7 linked regions of the Homo sapiens genome follow. The protein of the gene in region 7 purifies or fractionates together with the protein of the main gene of each other region. This does not show direct contact. Each region holds a gene or a part of one and is shown on either strand. Other genes may lie near its edges. The genes, in order: WDFY1, ARL6IP5, GAP43, PALM3, ARVCF, PTER and S1PR2.

The links.
Region 1: the proteins of S1PR2 (region 7) and WDFY1 purify together in Homo sapiens (affinity purification with mass spectrometry; 2 studies listed by BioGRID and IntAct, with this or other methods). This does not show direct contact.
Region 2: the proteins of S1PR2 (region 7) and ARL6IP5 purify together in Homo sapiens (affinity purification with mass spectrometry; 2 studies listed by BioGRID and IntAct, with this or other methods). This does not show direct contact.
Region 3: the proteins of S1PR2 (region 7) and GAP43 purify together in Homo sapiens (affinity purification with mass spectrometry; 2 studies listed by BioGRID and IntAct, with this or other methods). This does not show direct contact.
Region 4: the proteins of S1PR2 (region 7) and PALM3 purify together in Homo sapiens (affinity purification with mass spectrometry; 2 studies listed by BioGRID and IntAct, with this or other methods). This does not show direct contact.
Region 5: the proteins of S1PR2 (region 7) and ARVCF purify together in Homo sapiens (affinity purification with mass spectrometry; 2 studies listed by BioGRID and IntAct, with this or other methods). This does not show direct contact.
Region 6: the proteins of S1PR2 (region 7) and PTER purify together in Homo sapiens (affinity purification with mass spectrometry; 2 studies listed by BioGRID and IntAct, with this or other methods). This does not show direct contact.

The regions. Positions count from the first base shown.
Region 1 is NC_000002.12:223,877,092-223,879,341, forward strand, and holds part of WDFY1 (WD repeat and FYVE domain-containing protein 1), read right to left. Parts: intron 1,640-2,250; coding exon 1,580-1,639; 3' UTR 1-1,579. UniProt on the Homo sapiens protein: Positively regulates TLR3- and TLR4-mediated signaling pathways by bridging the interaction between TLR3 or TLR4 and TICAM1.
Region 2 is NC_000003.12:69,101,931-69,104,264, forward strand, and holds part of ARL6IP5 (PRA1 family protein 3), read left to right. Parts: coding exon 1-126; intron 127-2,334. UniProt on the Homo sapiens protein: Regulates intracellular concentrations of taurine and glutamate. Negatively modulates SLC1A1/EAAC1 glutamate transport activity by decreasing its affinity for glutamate in a PKC activity-dependent manner.
Region 3 is NC_000003.12:115,717,510-115,719,752, reverse strand, and holds part of GAP43 (neuromodulin), read right to left. Parts: intron 1-2,243. UniProt on the Homo sapiens protein: This protein is associated with nerve growth. It is a major component of the motile 'growth cones' that form the tips of elongating axons. Plays a role in axonal and dendritic filopodia induction.
Region 4 is NC_000019.10:14,052,866-14,055,976, forward strand, and holds the end of PALM3 (paralemmin-3), read right to left. Parts: intron 2,561-3,111; coding exon 2,515-2,560; intron 2,362-2,514; coding exon 740-2,361; 3' UTR 502-739; downstream 1-501. UniProt on the Homo sapiens protein: ATP-binding protein, which may act as a adapter in the Toll-like receptor (TLR) signaling.
Region 5 is NC_000022.11:19,971,824-19,975,329, forward strand, and holds part of ARVCF (splicing regulator ARVCF), read right to left. Parts: intron 2,417-3,506; coding exon 2,289-2,416; intron 1,971-2,288; coding exon 1,820-1,970; intron 1,495-1,819; coding exon 1,296-1,494; intron 1,214-1,295; coding exon 1,102-1,213; intron 1,005-1,101; coding exon 914-1,004; intron 589-913; coding exon 535-588; intron 149-534; coding exon 63-148; intron 1-62. UniProt on the Homo sapiens protein: Contributes to the regulation of alternative splicing of pre-mRNAs.
Region 6 is NC_000010.11:16,443,509-16,447,014, forward strand, and holds part of PTER (N-acetyltaurine hydrolase), read left to right. Parts: intron 1-3,506. UniProt on the Homo sapiens protein: N-acetyltaurine hydrolase that regulates feeding by catalyzing the hydrolysis of N-acetyltaurine into taurine and acetate. N-acetyltaurine has anorexigenic and anti-obesity effects that are dependent on GFRAL receptor and GDF15.
Region 7 is NC_000019.10:10,224,832-10,228,337, forward strand, and holds part of S1PR2 (sphingosine 1-phosphate receptor 2), read right to left. Parts: intron 117-3,506; 5' UTR 75-116; coding exon 1-74. UniProt on the Homo sapiens protein: Receptor for the lysosphingolipid sphingosine 1-phosphate (S1P). S1P is a bioactive lysophospholipid that elicits diverse physiological effects on most types of cells and tissues.

The sequences.
Region 1 (2,250 bases), on a different chromosome or scaffold from region 7:
TAATGCAGATCATTCCAGTACATGATGTGCGTGACCCCCTTTCCTTTCCTTACGTGTGTCACACAGCCATTAAGACATTTTAGTTTGATCGCCTCCTTAAACCTTTCAGTCCCTCTAAGACATCATTATAAAACAAATTTAGTCCTTTAGTTTTATCATATGGAATGACCCTATTGTCCTGGTATGATCCCAACACAGTGATGCAGTACTGAGGTTTTTTTTTTTTAATCAATATCTATTAGTAAGATTAGCAAAGATACTGTTGCTATTTTTATATTTGTCCTTTAAAAAGGTAGGCCCTTCTCCACTTACTTCCATATCCCTAGAGAAATAGATATATGTACTGTTGTCAAAAAAAATCAAACACACAAATACTGGAATATTAAAAGACAGGCTCCTCATTTCTTCTCTTCCTCATCCTGGTACACAGTGCCCAAAAGCTTTAGAAATGCCATTATGAACAATAGCTTTTGCTAGTTGTTAGGAAAGCAATTTATGAGTTGGGAATTATTGTGGAAGACTTGATGGATGATTATAGCTCTGGGTCACTAACTTCTTTTTATGAAAACATGAATAATACTAGTTATAACTCAAAGTCAAAATAGTGTAAAAGCTGTGGAGTGCTTTTGTAGGGGGTATATTAAATTGCCAGAATATTGCAGAGGCTCATCTTGGAACAAGAAGTAGAATGCTGTTTCAGTTAAGAGGACTGGGCTGTTTCAGGCAACAGACTGATCATTTCGCATCACAGTGGTGGCTGGGTTTTCCATCAGTCATTACTAATGGCAATGAGAAAAAGTCAGGCGGCTTGTGTGACTCCCATGTTAACAGCACCATAAAAAAGTTTTGCCCTAGGAATTTGGGGGAAAGGGAAGAATGCGGACTGCCTTTGTTATTACAGAAATTTCACAACTTACTTAATGACAACCCCGAAAGTTCACCTGTGGCATACTGGCTGGGAAGAGAAACAACTGAAGCAAGCCAATGCTAAGTGCAGATTATGGCACTACCTGAAAATAACAGATCTCTTTAAGAAGTTTATCAATAACTAAGTGTAGAGGATATTCACATACTGCCAAGTCATAGGGAAAGGTCTCTGGTTTCGTAAGTTCCTAATGCCACCCCTCAAGAAAGAGAGAACAAGTCTTCCCTCCCCCAGCTCCTGCTCTGACAACAGCCACAAGAACCCTGGAAGGCCCCCTAGGCTAAGTGAAGTGTCTGTACTTGTGACTGCTTTGAGAAGGTTCTAAGCATTCACTTTTTTGTTTGATTTTTTGTCCCCGCTAAAACTCATTTGCTAGCTCATTCTTTCACTACACATTAGCTGTTCATGGGGAAGTTTTGCTGAAGTAATTCCAGTCTTCAGGGAACCACTATGGACAGACCTTTTCCATATTAGTCCCCATGGGTAAGTTCCACAAATGCCCCAAAACACACCTTTACATTTTCTTTTTAAAAATGTTGATTTGTTTGTAAGTGGCTACTGTCCATTCACGAGACAGCGCTGTGGAGCTGCGTGAGAGGGACTTCATTTGGTGGAGCTGCTGTTCTTAGGTGTGGACGCCGCCCAGCTCTCAGATCAGTGCGGAGAAAACCCAGTCGCCAGACTGCAGCCCACCACAGGTGTCATGTCCCAGATCTACAAGGAAGGAAGAAACGCAGAAAAGGCAGCAGTGATAACCAGGTCTAACGGCAAGAGTCAACACAGACAAACAAACGACTGTTAAACCTGAAAAGGTGTCAAATTAATGAATTTTCTCATTCTCCTCTTTCATAACACCTCCTTAAGATTTATAGAAAGAGGCCAGGTGGCTGGGCACGGTGGCTCACGCCTGTAATCCCAACACTTTGGGAGACCGAGGCGGGTGTAGCACTTGAGCCCAGGAGTTCAAGACCAGCCTGGCCAACGTGGCAAAACCTTGTCTCTACCAAAAAAAATACAGAAATTAGCCTGGTGTGGTGGCACATGCCTGTGGTCCCAGCCACTCAAGAGGCTGAGGTGGGAGGATCACCTGAGCCCAGAAGGCAGAGGTTGCACTGAACCGAGGTCACACCACTACACTACAGTCTGGGTGACAGAGCGAGACCTTGTCTCAAACAAAAAGATTTTCAGAAAGATAAAACAATGTAGTTCACTAAAATGTGAATAAAGCATATAGGTAGTGTCTTTACACATAAAAATTAAATCATAATAATGTTTTAGTATAAATTCAATTTTTTTTTTAGAAAAGCCCATCAGGAATATAGAAT
Region 2 (2,334 bases), on a different chromosome or scaffold from region 7:
TTCGCCGGATGAAGAAGCGCTACCCCACGACGTTCGTTATGGTGGTCATGTTGGCGAGCTATTTCCTTATCTCCATGTTTGGAGGAGTCATGGTCTTTGTGTTTGGCATTACTTTTCCTTTGCTGTGTAAGTGAACTTGAGTTTTTTCTTCCATCATCAAAAAAATGTAGAAGCAATTATCCAACGGGAATTCCATAACCCATTTCTTATATGTGTTGGCATGTCAGCAAAAGTGTCAGAATTTTCTAAAACAGCTTTCTACTTGTTATCCAACTAGACCCAGATAACACAGAACTGAGGTCAAGAACTATGAGGTCAAGGCCTTATAGTTCATTAATTCCACAAATATTTGTTGGGGCATCTGCTATGTGTCATACATTCTTTTGTTGTTGTTGAGATGGGGTCTACTCTGTCACCCACGCTGTGGTGTTATCTCGGCTTACTGCAACCTCTGCCTCCTGAATAGCTGGGACCACAGGTGCACACCCAGCTAATTTTTTGTGTTTTGGGTAGAGACCGGGGTTTTACTATGTTGCCCAGGCTGATCTCGGACTCCCAAGCTTGAGTGATCTAGCTTCCTTGGACTCCCCAAGTGCTGGGATTACAGGCGTGAGCCACTTCGCCCAGCTGTGTGCCATACATTCTTATGGGGACACAACAGTAAACAGAACAAAGACAAATCCCAGGTCATACAGCAGGAATGTGGCATAACCTGCACTAGACTCCAGATTTGTCTAATAAGAGAGTCTATTCTCAATTTTTAAGTGCCATTCCTATTGTCCTGACACAGGAATGAATGTATTTATTATTTGGAAGTAGACTATTTATTCTCCACTTGCTCAGGAGATCATAACTAGTGTTAAAAGTTTGGTAAGTCTATAGGAATAATTGGCTCAGAATATAGGTACTAAATACTCAGATTCTGGTGAAGAGATCTAGATATTCTCTAAGTTTTACATGAATTATTTACTAAGACTCCAAACACTTGAAGCCTGAAATAGACAAGAAATAAAATCCCAGCCTAATCAGCAGAAATCTGATTAAAATTCTAGTATATTAAGTGACAGGCACATCCCTTTAACTTTCAATAACATTTGACATGTGCACTTATTCCACTAAATGAAATTATTTGCTTGTTTAGGGCTTTGTTAGATTAAGTCCAGAATATTTATGGATACATCCCATACCCTATTGGATAAAATATCTGAGCCAACAAATTCACACATTTTTGGAATTTTCTTCAGGTTTTCTGTAGGTGCTTAACGCTTAGTATTTCAATGATACTGTTTAATCAAACAGCTTGCTAATTTTAATACCTTTCCACATCAGAACCTGAGACAGGCCAGTGTAACGAAATGTATCAGAGGTAGACAGTTAAGAGTCCTGATTTCTATTCTTAGACCTGCTGGAAACCAGCATGTGATTTGGACCAGTCATCCTATATGGGCTGTAGTTCACTCATCTCTAAAGTAAGGAGATTAGATAAGTGATTCCCAAACGGATAATTGTGACAAGCATTCAGGATACTTTTTAAAAATATACATTTCCCAGCCACATCTTTATTTTGTGGGTCAACAGTGGTACCCAAGGATGTTAGGTTTTTAGAAAGCTCGTCAACTATTTCTAACGGGTGGTCTAGGTTGAGATCCTCCAGATGAATCCACATCAGGGTTTTTCAAAATAAGGGTCCAAGATCCACCTACATCAGAATCATCTGGAGTGATTATTAAAATAATGAATTCTGGAGCCTTCCCTCAGTTGTAACAGTCTGAATTTGGGGTGATGGAGACCAGGAATTTGCCTATTTAACAGGCTCTCCAGGTGATTTGAATGTACATGGAAGTTGTAAAACCACTGGTATAGATCATATGGAGAGAGGGTTACCTGTTTAAAATACAGATTCCCAGGCCTGTCTCTTTAAGGCTCAGGTGGAGGAGGTCCAGGAAAGGGGATAGGGAATCTGTGGTAAAATAATCAAGCAAGTTTGGGGAACGGTAGGCTATAGAAACTCTGTAAAGCCCTTAGATTTTTACATCTAGAATTCTATACCCAACACTTTGGGTAAAGCCTCCGGGAGGCACTTTAAAAGTGGACTTTACTCACGTGCTCCTGCAGGGAACAAGATACAGATAATCCCGAATCGAGCAAGAGTTCTTTTCTGGAAAGCCTCGGGTAAGTTGATTTTTAAGTAGGATGGAATCCCGTTGATTCACTCTGAATTTCAGGACATTTAAGTAGCATCTGCAAGGTGATGATATCAGTGTGTGAAGGAAAGGGTGTGGCTTCCAGATAATGGTCCTTCCTGTTGAATACAGCATTTTCCTTTAATGCAGA
Region 3 (2,243 bases), on a different chromosome or scaffold from region 7:
AGCATGCAGTCTGCTTCATAACTAAAATTTATTGCAGCGAAAAAACACAAAGCAAAATAAGCAAAGCTGAAAGTTGCGCATGGGCAAAGTTTGGAGGAAACCAAACAAATTTCTAAGAGTCTTCTCCCCATGGAGTCACCCAGGATGTGCTTAATTCTTTCAGCAATAAATTACCATAACACATGGAAGATGTCATCTATTAGGGAAGTTTAACTGAGTGAGTTTGCACTGGTAATAGGTCATGTAGGCACCCTCCAGCAAGCAGGTACAAAATTCAGACTCCCAGAAGAAAAATAGATGTTCAGCATAAACCACATTGTTTGTACTATGATTTTAGGCACCTGGAACCACTCTTATCAGTTAAGGAATGATGAGAATCTTCTCAAAATCCAAGATCCCAGATGCCAGCCAATGGTCAACTTTACAAACAAGCCTTTCTAAGGATAGCAGTCCCAGGCCTACTGTATTAACTGTTTTTTTTTTTCCTCAATCCCTGATATTGACGATGCCTCTGTCTTAAAATGGAGCTATTGTTATTGCTTGTCCTCCTCTTAACAACTACTAGGTGCTGATTATTCTTGGAAAGGTAAACTGGAGTCCATGTAATTTTGTTAGGCTAACAAATTTGTGTTTAATTAGAAGATAACAGACATAGCTTGAAAGCACTTGAGCAAGGAACATAATACAGCTATGCTTTGAGGAGATTAAACTAGGAATACTAAATAAAATAGTTTTACTGTACATAGATGTTGAGATTAGAGAAATGGGGTCATTAAGGAGACCATTAAAAGAGCTCATCAAAATGTATGTCTCTTTTAAATCAGCCAGCTACATATTTACATTCAGATGAAGCTGAACATTTATACCCACCATTATTAAACAAATTTATGGAATTTCTTCTCTGAAATACCTATCAAAAAACATTCTTTTAGAGCTCTTCAGTAGCAGAAATGCTTATTTTTTGAAAATAGGTTAGGTTTTTAGAATCTAACTAGACTAGTCTGGTAAATAAAGTAAGCAGCTACGATGGGTAATTTTACCTTATAATACTCACTTTTGACCAGGGTTTTAAAGTCTGACTTATTTTATAGGGTTCATAACTCACTATAAGCTATTCATAAAATATAGCTATTCTAGTGATGCTACCTACTACTACTTATAAGATTTTTTTAAGGCTATAGCTTTCCAAAGTGACTGTAATTACCTGTTGAACACAGTGCACCTATCCAAGTTTTGCATGAAACTAACTCAATTCTGATCATTATAATACACTATGCATCAGCAGTATTCCTCAGGAATTACAAAAATTTTGGTGTGCTAATGAGGTATTTAATTTTCTACCAGAAGAAAGATTCCAGATTTATTTCAGTGAAGTCCTTCTAAAACAATTAGGAATTCTTTTGGAGAGTTTGCTTGGTTCCCTAACCCTGCTCAAACCTTTGGATATTACAAGTATGCCCAAGGTAGTTTACCATCCTTATCAGTTCCAAGAAGCAATGTTTTTAGTGCCCTTTTCAAACTGCAAAATAAACATAATATTGATTTACACAACCCAGAAACATATAGAAAGATAGTAGTTATAGGAACAAGAGAAGACTTCAAATCTCTCCTTCCAAAATAAAGACATGGGAGCTATTATGTATGCTTAGAGGGAGATTAGGAAATGAGAGAAAAAGGGAAGTAGACTGGGAAAGGTGAGAATTGCATGTTTGTTGAATAAAGGGAATAAAACTCAAAAATGCAGAAACAGAAACTTGAACATTCAGATGGTTCTGAGATGCAGCTACACTTTCTGTTCCCTTGTTGGAATACAATCAAGCTAAATCCTCCCAAATTCTCCCACTTTCTCTTGTCATCCATTGCCTGGTCCTAGGACAAAAGACGAAATTTGGCACAAATCTGTTTATTATGACAGGAAATTATGAAGCTCTATTGAGAGAGCCTCAATATATATTCATTTTCTCAAATGCTTCAAAGTATTTTAAATGTAAATATTTATTAATTTATTTGTTCAATAAGTTGTTACTGGACACCTGCACTGTGCCAGGCATTCTTCTAGGTACTGAGAAAAAAAAAAAAAAAAGCAAAATCCTTGCTCTCCTTAAAGCCTTTCATAATATACCTTTAAAAGACAATAAAATTCAGGCTGGGTGCGGTGGCTCACACCTGTAATCCCAGCACTTTGGGAGGCTGAGATGGGTGGATCACCTGAGGTCAGGAGTTCGGGACCAGCTTGGCCAAAA
Region 4 (3,111 bases), 3.8 Mb from region 7:
GAGACCTTATCTCAAAAATAAACAAACTAATAAAAAGCAAAAAAAAAAAAAAAAGAAAAGAAAAAACACTGCATTTGGGCACCATCTCAGCTCCCTTGCATCCAGGTGCAGCATGGACTGAGTTCTTGACAACAGAATGTGGTCAGAAGTGACATATGCCAACACGGGGTCTGGGTGGGGGCTCCCCCACATCCTTTCCTTGCCTATGAGCTGGAACATAACACATGCCTATGATCCAGCTTTGGTCATACCCAAGGGGAAGGTGGAGCAAGAAATGAAAAGGAACCTGAATCCCTGAATGACTGCATGGATAGAACCACTAAGAAAAATAAACTTTTATATTTTTATAGCTACTGTAGCTTTGAGGTCTTTTTGTTACAGCAGCTCAATCTATACTCTCACTGATTCATAATCTTTGACTGTAGCAGGGTTAAGCCTCAAATTTCCCACCAGGAGATGACGCTGTGATTCTGTGCTGACTACACACACATTCAAGCCGTCTTGAGTGCTTTCACATTTTATTTTCAAGTATAAAGGCTTCATCGCAGAAGGAGGCCAGGGTTACAGGCAGTGGGCAAGGGGTCTGGAAGCCCAGGTTTAGGTGGACGTGCAGGCTAGCTGGCTCCCAGGTGCCATGGCCAGTCCTGTGGTCCCTGTCTGTGCCTGGGACCCTCTTCTGGGTGCCAAGAGGCCGAGGTAGCTGTGAGAGGAGCTGGACATGGGGTGGAGGGGCATGGGTTCACATGACCGCACAACACTGGCACGTCTTTTGCTTAGGGCCACTTGCCTCTTCACCCTCGGTGGGGGCAGATGGCTCAGGCTGCCGGGCAGGCGCGTAGGTGGGCACAGGGTGGGCACTGGGGTTGGCGCTGGGCCCCTCCCCCTGAAGCAGTGGCTGGCATTCGGCGGGCTGCTCTGGGGCTGGGGTCTCTGCCAGAAGAGGTGTGGCATCCCCCAAGGGGCCTTGGCCCTCAGCAGCGGTTTGGGGCTTCACTCCTTCCTCCTCCAGGGCTCCTACTGGCTTCTCCTGGGGCTGGGGTCCTTCCTTCTCTGGCCTTGTCTCCGTGTTAGCCTCAAGGGGAGGCCCTGCCTCATTCATCTCCTCTGCCTGGGATTCACTTCCTTCCCTAGACCCTTGTTCTAGATTCAGATCTCCCTCCGTCCCTTGGGTCTTCTCTGTCTCCAATGATTCCTCACCTCCCCTTTTCTCTGCCTCCAGTGTCTCCTCCCCTCCCTTTCTCTCTGCCTCCAGTGGTTCTTTGGTTGCCTCTGGCTCTTCCTCACCTCCTTTCTTCTCTACTCCCAATGGTTCTTCTACCTCCTCCTCCTCTGCCCCTCGCTTTTCCTCATCTCCTTCCTTCTCTGCCCTCAAATGTCCCTCAACTTTTCTCTCTATGCCCAGTGGTTCCTCACCTCCTTCCCTCTCTGTTCCCAGCTTTTCTGCACTTCCTCTGCTCTCCAGCTCCAACTTCTTCTCTCCTCCTTTCCTCTCTACCACTGGTGACATCTCCGCTTCATCCCTCCCTGTCCCTGGCTTTTCCTCACTTCCTATTCCCATGGATTCTTCCGCTTTTCTCTTCTCTGCCTCCCAGGTCTCCTCGCCTCCTCCCGTCTTGGCCCCCTCGGCCCCCAGCGGGCTTTCATCTCCTCTCTCCCTCCCTGCCACCTCGGGCCCTTCCAACCCCTCCACCAGCAGCTCCTCCCACTCTTCACTGAGGGTCACTCTCTCCACCCAAATGAAGGATCCCTCCTCTCCTCCAGAGCCTCCCTGCCCATCACCCTCAGGGCTGCCCTGGGGCACATCTTCCCCTTCTATGGAAGCTGCTGCCTCTAATCTCTCCTGGAGCCTAGGCGAGCTAGTCTGCACGACCTCAGGGACCCTGCCTATCTCCCCCATGGCCTCTGCATCACTGCCACCCACCCCCTCCCAGACCACCTCCACGATGCCCCTGTCCTCCTTCACCCAGGCCGGGAGCTCCAGGCTACCAGCTCCCTTCCTGTCTCCGATGGCTTCCAGCACCACTTCCTCCACCTTAGCCTCCAGCTCGGGGCCCGTGGCCCCTGTGGCACAGTCCTCTGTGGCCCTCAGCCCTTCCCACACCACACTCACCACGCCCCCTCCTTTGGCCTCACCCACCCGCCCTTCGGATGGCACTGCCCTCTGACTTAGCCCCTGCTCTGGAGTGGGGATGGGGCTGGGGCATGGGCCATTGGCTTCTGAGGAGTCTCCTGCTGCCCCGGGGACCTGCCTCGGGCCTGGCAGAAACCCCAAGACATCCTCCCTGGGCTCAGAGGGGGACTCTGGAGGCGTGCCCACTAGTCCAGCCGGCAGGGAGGCTCTCTTGTTCAGATCAGTCTGGCCTGGGGGAGTCAGAGGTGGAGGGGAGAGGACAAAAGGGAAGACAGGGTTAAGATGGAACAAAAGGACTGCCATCCACACTCCCCTTGAGTCACCCTCTCACACCCAGGCTCTGGGGTGACCTGACCCCCAGACCTAGGGGCTCCCACACTTACCTACAGAACCTGCCTCGACAATGGACTGGGAGAGAGGACGGTGACCCTGCAGAGATGGCGGAGACAAGGTCAGGCTGGCCCTCATCCCCACCTCCAGCCTCCCTGCATGCTAGGCTCCCACCCCACCACCCCTAAATACCCTCAGTGGCTCTCTATTACCTTCAGGATCAAACTCCACATTGTACCTCTGCCTTCCTCATCTATCTTATTGCCCTATGTTCCAGGGCCTTGCACACAGTAGGTGCTTAAACAATACTGCATTCCCATAGCCAATCTGTATTAGGGGCCTACTTTGTCAGTTACTGGTTACCATGCACAAGGGACACTTAAGCCTTTTGTTTTTGGCACTTACATTCCAATCAACATAAATACAAATTAATTTTTTTTTTGAGATGGAGTCTTGCTGTGTCGCCCAGGCTGGAGTGCAGTGGCGTAATCTCGGCTCACTGCAACGTTCGCCTCCTGGTTTCAAACGATTTCCCTGTCTCAGCCTCCCTAGTAGCTGGGACTACAGGCACCTGCCAGCATGCCCAGCTAATTTTTGTTTGAGACAGAGTCTCACTCTGTTGCCCAGGCTGGAGTGCAGTGGTGTGATCT
Region 5 (3,506 bases), on a different chromosome or scaffold from region 7:
TCCAGCAACCCCTAGACACGGGGCCTCACCGGGGACCTGCCCACAGCCACATGACCACTTACTTTCAAGGGTTCCTTCTCAGAGGCCTCTCCTGCAGAGCTGGCGCCCCGTGGCCTCCGCTCCCTCCGGTCCACCGTGGAGTATCCGTCTGTAGATGGGGTAAGGTGGGGCATGAGGGGCGCTCTGAGGGAGGCCCTGTAGGAGCAGATCTCCCTCTCAGCCCAGACACAGGGGACTCGTGGGACAGGGGCTTTGGGAGACAGCCCCCACCCACCCTGTCCTGGAGATCCAGGCTGGTGCCAGCTCTCACCAACACCCTGCCAACTCTCCAGACTCCCCTCCACTTGTGGGTCAGAGCCCCTGGCTGAGCACTAATCCCTCTCTAGCTGCCCTGTACCTCACCCTCTAAGCACCCCTAAACCAAATATCTCTCCTCCACCCAGCACCATCTACACCCCATAAAACCAGCAGGCCCACTTCAGGCCTTGGTCCCCTCCCGGCACAGAAAACCAACCACACTGCATCTGCACTCACCTGGGCCCAGCGCATCCATGGGGATCACATCCCGGCTGCCAGTTTTCTCGCCCTCTGCAAGGCAGGAGGAGGAGACGGGCTGCATGTGGCAGCCAGGGGGGATCGGGGCAGAGAAGCCCACACAGGGCTGGCCCAGGTAGCCCTAGAGGCTCTCTGTCACTAAGGTGCCCAACCTCTGCCAGCTGGCAGCCTCACCCCAGCTTGACAACAGCGCGGATGCTGTGGGAAGGGAGTAGCCAAGAGGCAGAGGGCAGGGAAAGTGGCCTATGGAAGCCGTCTCAGTGGGAGGCCTGACTCCTCCTTCACCTTCACCCAAGGGTCAGGCAACTGGGGCAGCTGGGGTCGCCACCCTCTAGGCTCCCTAAGCTCCACCACTCACCAAGGCTCTTGTCCACCAGTGGCAGCGTGCTGTCATCGAAGCCCCCAGGACTCAGTGCTCCCTTAGGCCCCTTGGCAGTAGCAGCAGCTGACTGAGACATAAAACACAGACACAGGGTGGGTGAAGCACATGGAGTGGGAATAAGGCAAAGTGAGCAGGGAATGGAAGGAAGGCCAGGGAAGCCGCACCTGGAAGCGCGCCTTGGTCCAACCATCTTTCTGCAAGGTACCACGCAGCTCCTTGTAGCTCCACACTGTCTGCAGCACGTGTGACGCCGCCTTCGCTTCGCGTACCGATTGGCTGTGGGGCCGGGGGCGGGGTCAGTGGTGGCCCCTCCCCCACCTCCGCGGCTCCCCAAGCCACCGACCCCGCCCCTCCACACCTGGAGGCCACGAGAGCCACCAACGCTGGCACCCCGCGTGCCTGCAGGAGCGAGCGCGCGTTATCCAGGCTGTCGGACACGATTTCGTGGATGGTGTTGAGCACCGCCACCACGGTGTCTTCCTCCAGGCAGGCCCCCGGTCGCGGCGGAGCCTGTGCATTGCGCACATTCCGCACAAGCTCAGCCATGGCGTAGCTCCCTGAGGGGCAGGACTAGGTGTCAGAACACACCTCTGCCCCACCTCTCCAGGAAGGAGCAGGGATCCCGCGAGGGCGAGGGGCACTGCCAGGAGAGCCCCTGGAGACCGCCTGTGTGCAGGCGGTCACAGGAGCCCCTGTGAGCAGGGCGCTGAGCTTCAGAGACAGGGCCGGGGGGACTGGAGCTACCTCCAGTTGGGACAGCGCCCAAGCGAGAGGGCCGGGGCCTGGACTCCCAAACCACTCATCCTCCAAGCCCCTCCGATGGGACCCCAAAGCTGCAGGCACAGTTCGGTGCCCAGGCGTGGGCTTTGCAGGCGTCCTCACCGATGAGGTCTTTGTTGCGCCGGTCCAGCGAGAGGTTGCGCAGAGCGATGGCGACGGCGCGCACCACCTTGTCGGTCTCAGACTGCAGCAGTTCCACAAGCACCGGCAGCCCGCGCTCTTTGCGCACTGTGGCGCGGATGTACGTGGCCCACTGCGGAGGCGGGGAGAGGGTTGCTCAGACATACATGCCAGGCACTCTCCCACCTCCAGACGCTGACCGCTCTCTCCAGCTGGACCTTCCTGCTCCCGTGCCCGACAAAGCCCTACCCCAAAAGCTCAACGGCACCTCCACCGAGGTTTTCCCACCGTCCAGGGTGCACGCATTGCCCGCAGCCCATACACCTCTTGGATCCTGGGGTGGTGGTGTGGCCCCTCCTTTCCCCGCCAGCCGAGGCAGGAGCTGCACCAGTGAGGTGCCTGGGATTCCCTCTCTCAGGACTTGCCCACCCTGCCCGACCTGGTCCCTCACCATCCAGTTGCCGGCACTGAGGTTCTGCAGAGCGCCGGCGGCAGCCTCCAGGGTGTTGAAGTTCCGGCTCTCCGTGAGGAGGGAGAGGTAGAGACGTACCACCTCGGGCTGGTACAGCAGCTCAAAGCCTAGGTGCAGGGCAACCGCCACCCACGGTCACCCAGAATCTGCTCTCATCCATCATACCCCTCCCGCTTCCCGCTTCAGAGCTCCCAGGGCGTGGGTGAGCTGGGGCCAGGGATGGGTGTGGATGAGTCACGTAATATTTACTATCAACATATAGTCACCCAAGGGGAAAAGCGTTCCCATTTCACAGAGGAACAAACTGAGGCTCAAATCAGTTGGACCTGCCTGGCAGCAGGAGCATCCAGGAGGCCTGGGGTGGGGAGGGAGGTGTCAACCAGGAACGCTCTCCTAGCAACAAGACCCGCATTTCCCGGTAGGTCCCTGAAGCTATGCATCCTGGCCACGCCCCTGGTAATAGGGCCCACCCTCCCTGGCAACAAGACCAGCATTGGCCAGTAACTGAGAGTTGTATAACCAAGGCCACACCCCTAGCAAGAGGACCTGCTTTCACCAGTAACTGAAGCTGTGCAGAGAGCTACGCCCCCTAGCAACAGGGCCCACCCTCCCCCACTGACAATAGAGCCCACCCTCTGTAAGTCAACTGATGCAGTGCAACCAGGGCAGCTGCCCTAGCAACAGGAGGCACTCTTCCTGGCAACCACTCCAAGTTCCCGGGCAACTGAGGCGCCGTCCTGCTGCTCTGCCCAGTGCTCCAGAAATGAGGGGTCAAAACAGCCTTCCAAGCTTGCCTGTCTCCAAACTGGGGCTTCAGCCTGGCTTGGGTACTACCTCGATCTCCCCTGTACCCACCCAGTGACATTTCATCACACCCTCGCCAGTCCTCATGCCCCATGCTCCCTCTACTCCTGCCCTGCTGGGCTTTCTGCTCCAACACACTCCAAGCACACTCCCCGCTGGGGTATCTGCATCAGCCCTGCTCTGCCTGTAATACTCCCCCACAGCCCTCCTGCGGCTGGAGCCCTCCACCCTGGTGACATGCAGGCTCTTCCAACTGGCTAGGCCCCACCAGGACAGACCTCTCTCTCAAGCCAGATCCCAGCATACAGCCCAATAGGCACTGCCCTGTCCCTGCAGGTGTTCGTCTGGCCCAGCCTCTGAACCTGGATGTGAGCATGCCCGCCTGGCTCCCAG
Region 6 (3,506 bases), on a different chromosome or scaffold from region 7:
AAGTGATGACTACACATCTTTGGAGAATCTCCTCAGTTCAGGAACTTCTTTTTAACTAACATTACTTGGAGGAGAGCTTAATGCTCGTGACTTTAAACATTTATGTAATTAGGTAAAAAGGGAAGCAACATTATTAAATGACTTGGATAGAGTTCATCAAGCAGTTAAGAAAAAAATGTACATAATCAAGCGTACCTTGCAGTCTGAATGACAAACATCCAAATATTTGCTGTAACAACTCGCACATATTTTTACCAAAAATTTCCTCTCCGAATCAGAAACTTACTATGATGAGTCCATGTACTTACGTGTACCATCAAAAAGGGCCAGAGGATCGCTAGAGTATGCTGTGGTCCTATCTGCTCTTTCTATAAAGTGGTATCTTGTGCTCATCTTGCTTAAATATGTTGTGTCTTACAATTATCACGATACTATCAACTGAAAACAGAAAGGTCTGTGAGAAAAGATGTGAGCCTAGGAAGCTAAAAACTTTTTCTTTTTTTTTTTTTTTTGAGATGGAGTCTCGCTCTGTTGCCATGCTGGAGTGCATTGGCGCGATCTCGGCTGACTGCAACCTCTGCCTCCCGAATTCAAGCGATTCTCCTGCCTCAGCCTCCCGAGTAGCTGGAACTATAGGCACGTGCCACCATGCCCAGCTAACTTTTATATTTTTAGTATATTTTCAGCATGTTGGCCGGGATGGTCTCAATCTCTTGACTCGTGATCTACCCGCCTCGGCCTCCCAAAGTGCTGGGATTACAGGCATGAACCACCGCACCCGGCCTCTTTTCTTTTTTTTGAGACGGTGTCTTGCTCTGTCACCCAGGCCGGAGTGTGGTGGTGATCATAGCTCACTTGAGCTTCTGGGCTAAAGCGATCCTCCTGAGTAGCTGGATTACAGGTGCTCAATACCTCAATACCACGCCTGGTTTTTTTTTTTTGGACAGAGGACCTACAGGGAACTTTATTCTCGTGCTTTTGTCTTCACTGGGGCACTACCCCTCGGGAAGACCAGGTTGGCTCCTGGCACAGGGATGCACCTGGTTAATTTAAAAACATTTTTTTTTAGAGATGGGGTCTCACTCTGTTGCCCAGGTTCGTCTCCAACTCCAAGGCTCAAGTGATCCTCCCACCTCGGCCTCCCAAAATGCTAGGATCACAGGCATGAGCCACCACAACCAGCTAGCAAAGCTCTTATATTCAAAGAAATATTGGGGAATGTGAAGGCACAGAAGGCCTCAGTTTGACATTATCTGTCCATATCTATAATGCATACTATCTTTGCTTCTGACGAGCTTTTACAATGTTCCCTCAGAATAGAATAATAGGGTTTTTTTTAATCCTTAAAAGAATCTTACGTAGTAAATTGGTAGTCAGAAATATTAGAGGGTTGTTACATGGGTATGTAAGAGTATATAAGTAAAACTTGGGGTTTTGAATGGGCTGTAAAACACTTTTCTCTTTAAAACTGTTTTAAGTGGAAATGTATTATTGAAGCTGTGTGATGGATGAGTAGGGGTTCACTACACTGCACTCTCTACATTAGCGAATTTTTGAGAATGTCCATATTAAAAAGTTTAAATAAAAGTTATTTTTTAAAAAGGAGAATAAATGAGTGAAATATATGGCCTCCTGTGAGGCAAAATTCGATACCTATATAAGGGACACATTAAATGAGGTATGCATGCCTATGTTAGACAATATTAAGTCGAGTATGGTTTTAACTACCAATCGCTCTGTAGAAAAGTGTTGTTGAGGCTGAGCGTGGTGGCTCCTGCCTGTAATCACAGCTACTCAGGAGGCTGAGGCAGGAGAATGGCTTGAACCTGGGAGGCGAAGGTTGCAGTGAGCCTAGATCGTGCCACTGCACTCTAGCCTGGGCGACAGAGTGAGTGAGATTCCATCTCAAAAACAAAAAAGAAAATTATTATTGAAACCCTTATCCAAGAGTAGCTGGAAGAGTATCTTTCCTAGTTTTGGCCTAGATTATTTGAGACATTTTTTATTTATGCTTCTCTGGCATATGACATGTCTATTACTTCCATGAGTCAGTGCCTTTCTCCCAGTTAGCATTTCCCAGGCTCTCAGGCTGCAGTGTCTCCAAGCTCAGTCTTTGATTTCAGAGCCTATTAGCCATGGCACAAATCCGGTGAACACAGAAACTTACAAAGAGGCCACTTGTCTCCGATGCACTGATGCACCATGCGTGGCTAGTGCCTTCTGCCCAATGTCTTCTCTGAAAACATTCCCTGCTGTTGTAGGAAGGATCCTACAGGCTGACACCAAGGAAGCCATGCTGTCTCCTGGGTGGTCTTCAGAGGACACTGCCTCCTGAGGGGCTGACATGGCCAAAGCCCATCCAAGTCCTCTCAGCCTCCATATCTAGGATGAGAAGTTGTCCTGGGCCTGTGAGTCTCGCTCACATTTCTGCATAAGTGTCAGGCCTGGCATAGATGATTCCCTTTTGCTTTGGTGCTGCTTTGAGCTTGCCCCGTTATCATTTAGTAAAGTGCATCTTCAAGAGTGTTTCTCTTTCTCCTGTGTGCCAGATATTTCGGAGCAGCTCAGTGCATAAGTGGTAAAGAATTTGCTATTTCCAATACTGACATTACTGAGACTTTGACTTGCAACCATAGTTGATCTTGAATGTTCGGGGGTGGGGAGAAGGCTCTTACAAATAGAGGTGCAATGCACGCCACCCCACCCCCAACATTTTTTTTTTTTTTTGAGATAGAGTTGGTCTGTCGCCCAGGCTGGAGTGTAGCAGTGTGATCTTGGCTAACTGCAACCTCCACCACCTCCCGGGTTCAAGTGATTCTTGTGCCTCAGCTTCTTGAGTAGCTGAGATTAAAGGCGTGCACCACAATGCCTGGCTAATTTTTTGTATTTTTACTAGAGACGTGTTTCCACCATGTTGATCAGGCTGGTGCAGTGCCCCTTGTTGATGATCATTCCTCTCAAGTGTTATCTTTTCACTCTTTGCCTGTTAGTGTAGTTAGATAGAGAGATCAAACTATTTCAAGTTAGAAGTTCAAGTTTAAAATGTTCTCCATGAAGACTCTACATAGTCCCATTTGTGTATTGAATTTAATTGTTAGATTTGTTATATATATTAAAGAACATATGCAGTTTCTTAGCATTAGAAACATTTCATGGACTGTTGCTACTCGTTATTGTTGCCATGGTGAGGTCAAAACGCTTAATTTCTTAATTCTTTCTTTTCTATTTTGATAGACCACCAAGATTGTAAGACATTTTTGTTTGTTTGTTTGTTTGTTTTGTTTTGTTTTGTTTTTTTGAGACAGGGTCTCCCTCTGTTGACTCGGCGAGAGTGCATTGGTGCAATCTCGGCTTGCTGCAACCTCTGCCTCCTGGGTTCAAGCAATTCTCATGCCTCAGCCTCCCAAGGAGCTGGGATTACAGGCGTGCGCTACCATGCCCAGCTAATTTTTGTATTTTTAGTAGAGACAGGGTTTTGCCATGTTAGCCAGGTTGGTCTTGAACTC
Region 7 (3,506 bases):
AGCGTCTCCTTGGTATAATTATAGTGTTCCTGGACCTTGTTGGGGTTCAGGTACTCCGAGTACAAGCTGCCCATGGTGGGGCTCAGAGGCCTGCTGGGGCCATGGGGCTTTCAGAACTGCAGAGAAGACAGACAGACAGACAGACAATAGGTCAGAGCTGTGGCTGCTACCTGGGCTCTGGCCTCGGATGGGCTGAGATTCAATTTCCTGCTCTGTTACTCTTCGAGGAAGGGCCACATGAATTCAGAATCATCATCATCCCCACTTACAGACGGGAAACCCAGAGAGATTAATTCACTTTCCTAAAGTCTCAAATTTAACCAGCGGCAGGGCCAGAGAGACTGGCTCTGCGGCCTCTATAAGCCCTAGGCTACGCTCTTTCTTATTTATTTTATTTATCTATATTTTAAAGACAAGGTCTTGCTCTGTCATTCAGGCTGGAGTGCAGTGGCGCAATCATAGCTCCCTGCAGCCTTGAACTCCTGGGCTCAAGTGATCCTCCCACCTCAGCCTCCCACCTCAGCTTCAGCTACAAGCACATGCCACCACGCCTGGCTAATTTTTTTTTTTTTTTTTTTTTTTTGAGATGGAGTCTCCCTCTGTTGCCAAGGCTGGAGTGCTGCGGCACGGTCTTGGCTCACTGCAACCTCCTCCTCCTGGGTTCAAGTGATTCTCCTGCCTCAGCTTCCTGAGTAGCTGGGATTACGGGCACCTGCCACCAGGCCCAGCTAATTTTTTTTTTATTTTTAGTAGAGACAGGGTTTCACCATGTTGGCCAGCATGGTCTCGAACTTCTGACCTCATGATCCGCCTGCCTCGGCCTCTCAAAGCGCTGGGATTACCAGTGTGAGCCACCGGGCCCAGCCGCCTGGCTAGTTTTTTTGTTTTTTAGAGATTGGGTCTCACTGTGTTGTCCAGGCTGGTCCTGAACTCCTGGCTTCAAGCAATTCTCCTCGGCCTCTCAAAGCAATGAGATTACAGGTATGAACCATGACATCTTGCCTCTTTTAATTTTCATTATTATTTTCTAGAGATAGGGTCTTGCTCTGTCACCCAGGCTGGAGTGCAGTGGCATGATCATAGCTCACAGTTGTCTCTACTCCTGGGCTCAAGTGATCCTCCTGCCTCAGTCTCCTGAGTAGCTACACGCTTTCAAAGGGAAAGAAGCTCCCCCAAATGGCATGAAAAATATAATGTGGACTTCCAGAAACCTTGCCCACCTACCCAGAGAGCAAGCCCTAGGCAGGTCCTGGAGGGTTTGTCTCTTTTCTGGAACACACAGGCGCCTGCGCCCTCATGCTGACCTGGGTCAGGGAGAGTCTCACCACTGATAGCTCCGTGCCCTGCTCATTCATTACCACCCACTAACGCTGGATTTCAGGCTGGGTCTAAGCCTTGAGGCCACGGGTGCTCCCAAGATAAGGTCTTGGGGAGACACCAGGGCGGCCCTGAGATTCAAACATCCCAGAGGTCACACCATCTTCAAGGACACAGACCTTGAAGGCAATCCAGAATTTGCTCCCATTCCACCTCTGAAACACTGGGCAAGTCCCTAGACGCTGTCTCAGCCTGAACCTCCTTATCTGTGCAATAGAGAGAAGAAAGCCCACTTCATGGGGGTGATGGGAAAATCCTTTTAAATGACGCATGAGGCACGTTTAGCTCATAGTAAGCACTCAACAAATACTGCCAAATGTTATTAGCTCCCCTCTTTCCTCCAGTCCTTTGGGAAGGGAAGGGATGTAAGCCAACCAGACGAGATCTCCAACAGCCTGTTCTCATCAGCACCATCTAGCTCTGCCCTGGGACAGAAGGTCCTGCCGGGATGGGCAGGGCGCTGGCACCCCCTCCCCAGCCAGGATGAAATCCAGATGTGAGGCCCCTGGAACAAACAGGGTGGAGTCCTCACTCTGCAGTCACATCCGGTGTGAGGAAGGCGGGATGTAGGGGGAGTCAGGATGGGAGAGACCCCATCTGGGAGGTCCTGGCTGGGAGGATGGGGCAGCTTTGCTGAAGTCATGTGAGCCGTGAAGGGGTGTGCAGCCCCGCCGGGAGGGGGTAAGGCATTTGTTCCATGAAAACCTGAGTCACCCCCCCAACCCCCTCCCATCCCTCCCCTCCACCCTCTTCCATCCCTCCCTCTACCCCCTCCCATCCCCCCCCATCGCCACCCACCAAGGAAAACTGAGCCGTGGTGGGAGGGGGCGGGGAGAGGCGCTCCTCGGCAGAGAGGATGAGAGGCAGACACCATGGCCTTCCCCCAGCTTGGGGGTAGGGTTAGGGGTTGTCAGAGGCGCCAGTGCAGTGTATGCCTTTCATGAAGGGAGAGGAAGTTCCAGCCTTAGCTAAATGGGAGGGAGGGGGGAGAGTAGGGGGAGTCCTCCTCAGGTCCCTAGAAACACGTCTGGCAAGGACTGTGTGCACCGTTCCAGAAAAGTCTGGTTAGGCCAGTTCTCCTGAGCCCAGGAGTGATGGAGGTTTCCGGAGTCACCCAGCCATCTCAGTCCCTGGCCGCCCCCTCCAAGGGGCATCCTGGCCCCTGGCTGGATAGAGGCAGCTGCTCCCCCAGGGCGGAGGGACATCCGTCCTAGTTTGGGAACAGACAAGGGCTTGTGCACGTCCCCGGGGACTGCTGCCCCTCCCAGATAGCCACACAGAGGCCCCTTGTTCCCTTGCTGGACGCAGCCCCGGGCATCTTGATGCCCTCTGCACGCTGCAGCCAGTCCCAGGCAGGCTTGGGCCCAGGCTGCGGCTGGATCAGACACAGCTGATGGGCCGGAAACAGCCCATGCTCTGATTGGCTCATTTTCAATCCAAGGGCACTGAGCAATTTGCCTATTGGCCCGGGCTTTCCATCTTCTGCCTCTGATTGGTCCAGTTGGGGGCGCTCTACGGCCAGCCCTACCGATGGGGTCCTTTATAGGCGACGGGAGCTCAGGCTTTCTGAGGATAGAGTTAATGCTATGTGGACGTCCCTAGGGGGAGTTTGAACCGCAGCCTGACCTCTGGGTCACCCCGACCAGACACCCCCAGGCTGCCCTGGCCTGCTGGGCCCCTCCTGGGGTTCATAAGTGAGAATCAAGGTCCCTTTCCAGGCCTGGGGAGCACGCTGTGCAGTGCAGCCGCCCCCTCTGCTGCTCACCAAGAGATTTGCTGTGGCTTCCTGGATAAATAAGAAATGTGTTTAGGCCGGGCGCAGTGGCTCATGCCTGTAATCCCAGCACTCTGGGAAGCCGAGGCGGGCCTATCACCTGAGATCATGAGTTCAAGACCAGCCTGGCCAACATGGTAAAACCCCCCTCTACTCAAAAAAAAAAAAAAAAAAAAAAAATTAGCCGGGCATGGTGGTGTGCGCCTGTGATCCCAGCTACTTGGGAGACTGAAGCAGGAGAATCGCTTGAACCCGGGAGGCAGAGGTTGCAGTGAGCCAAGATCGCAGCCATTGCACTCCAGCCTGGGTGACAGAGCGAGACTGTCTCAAAACAAAACAAAACAAAACAAAACAA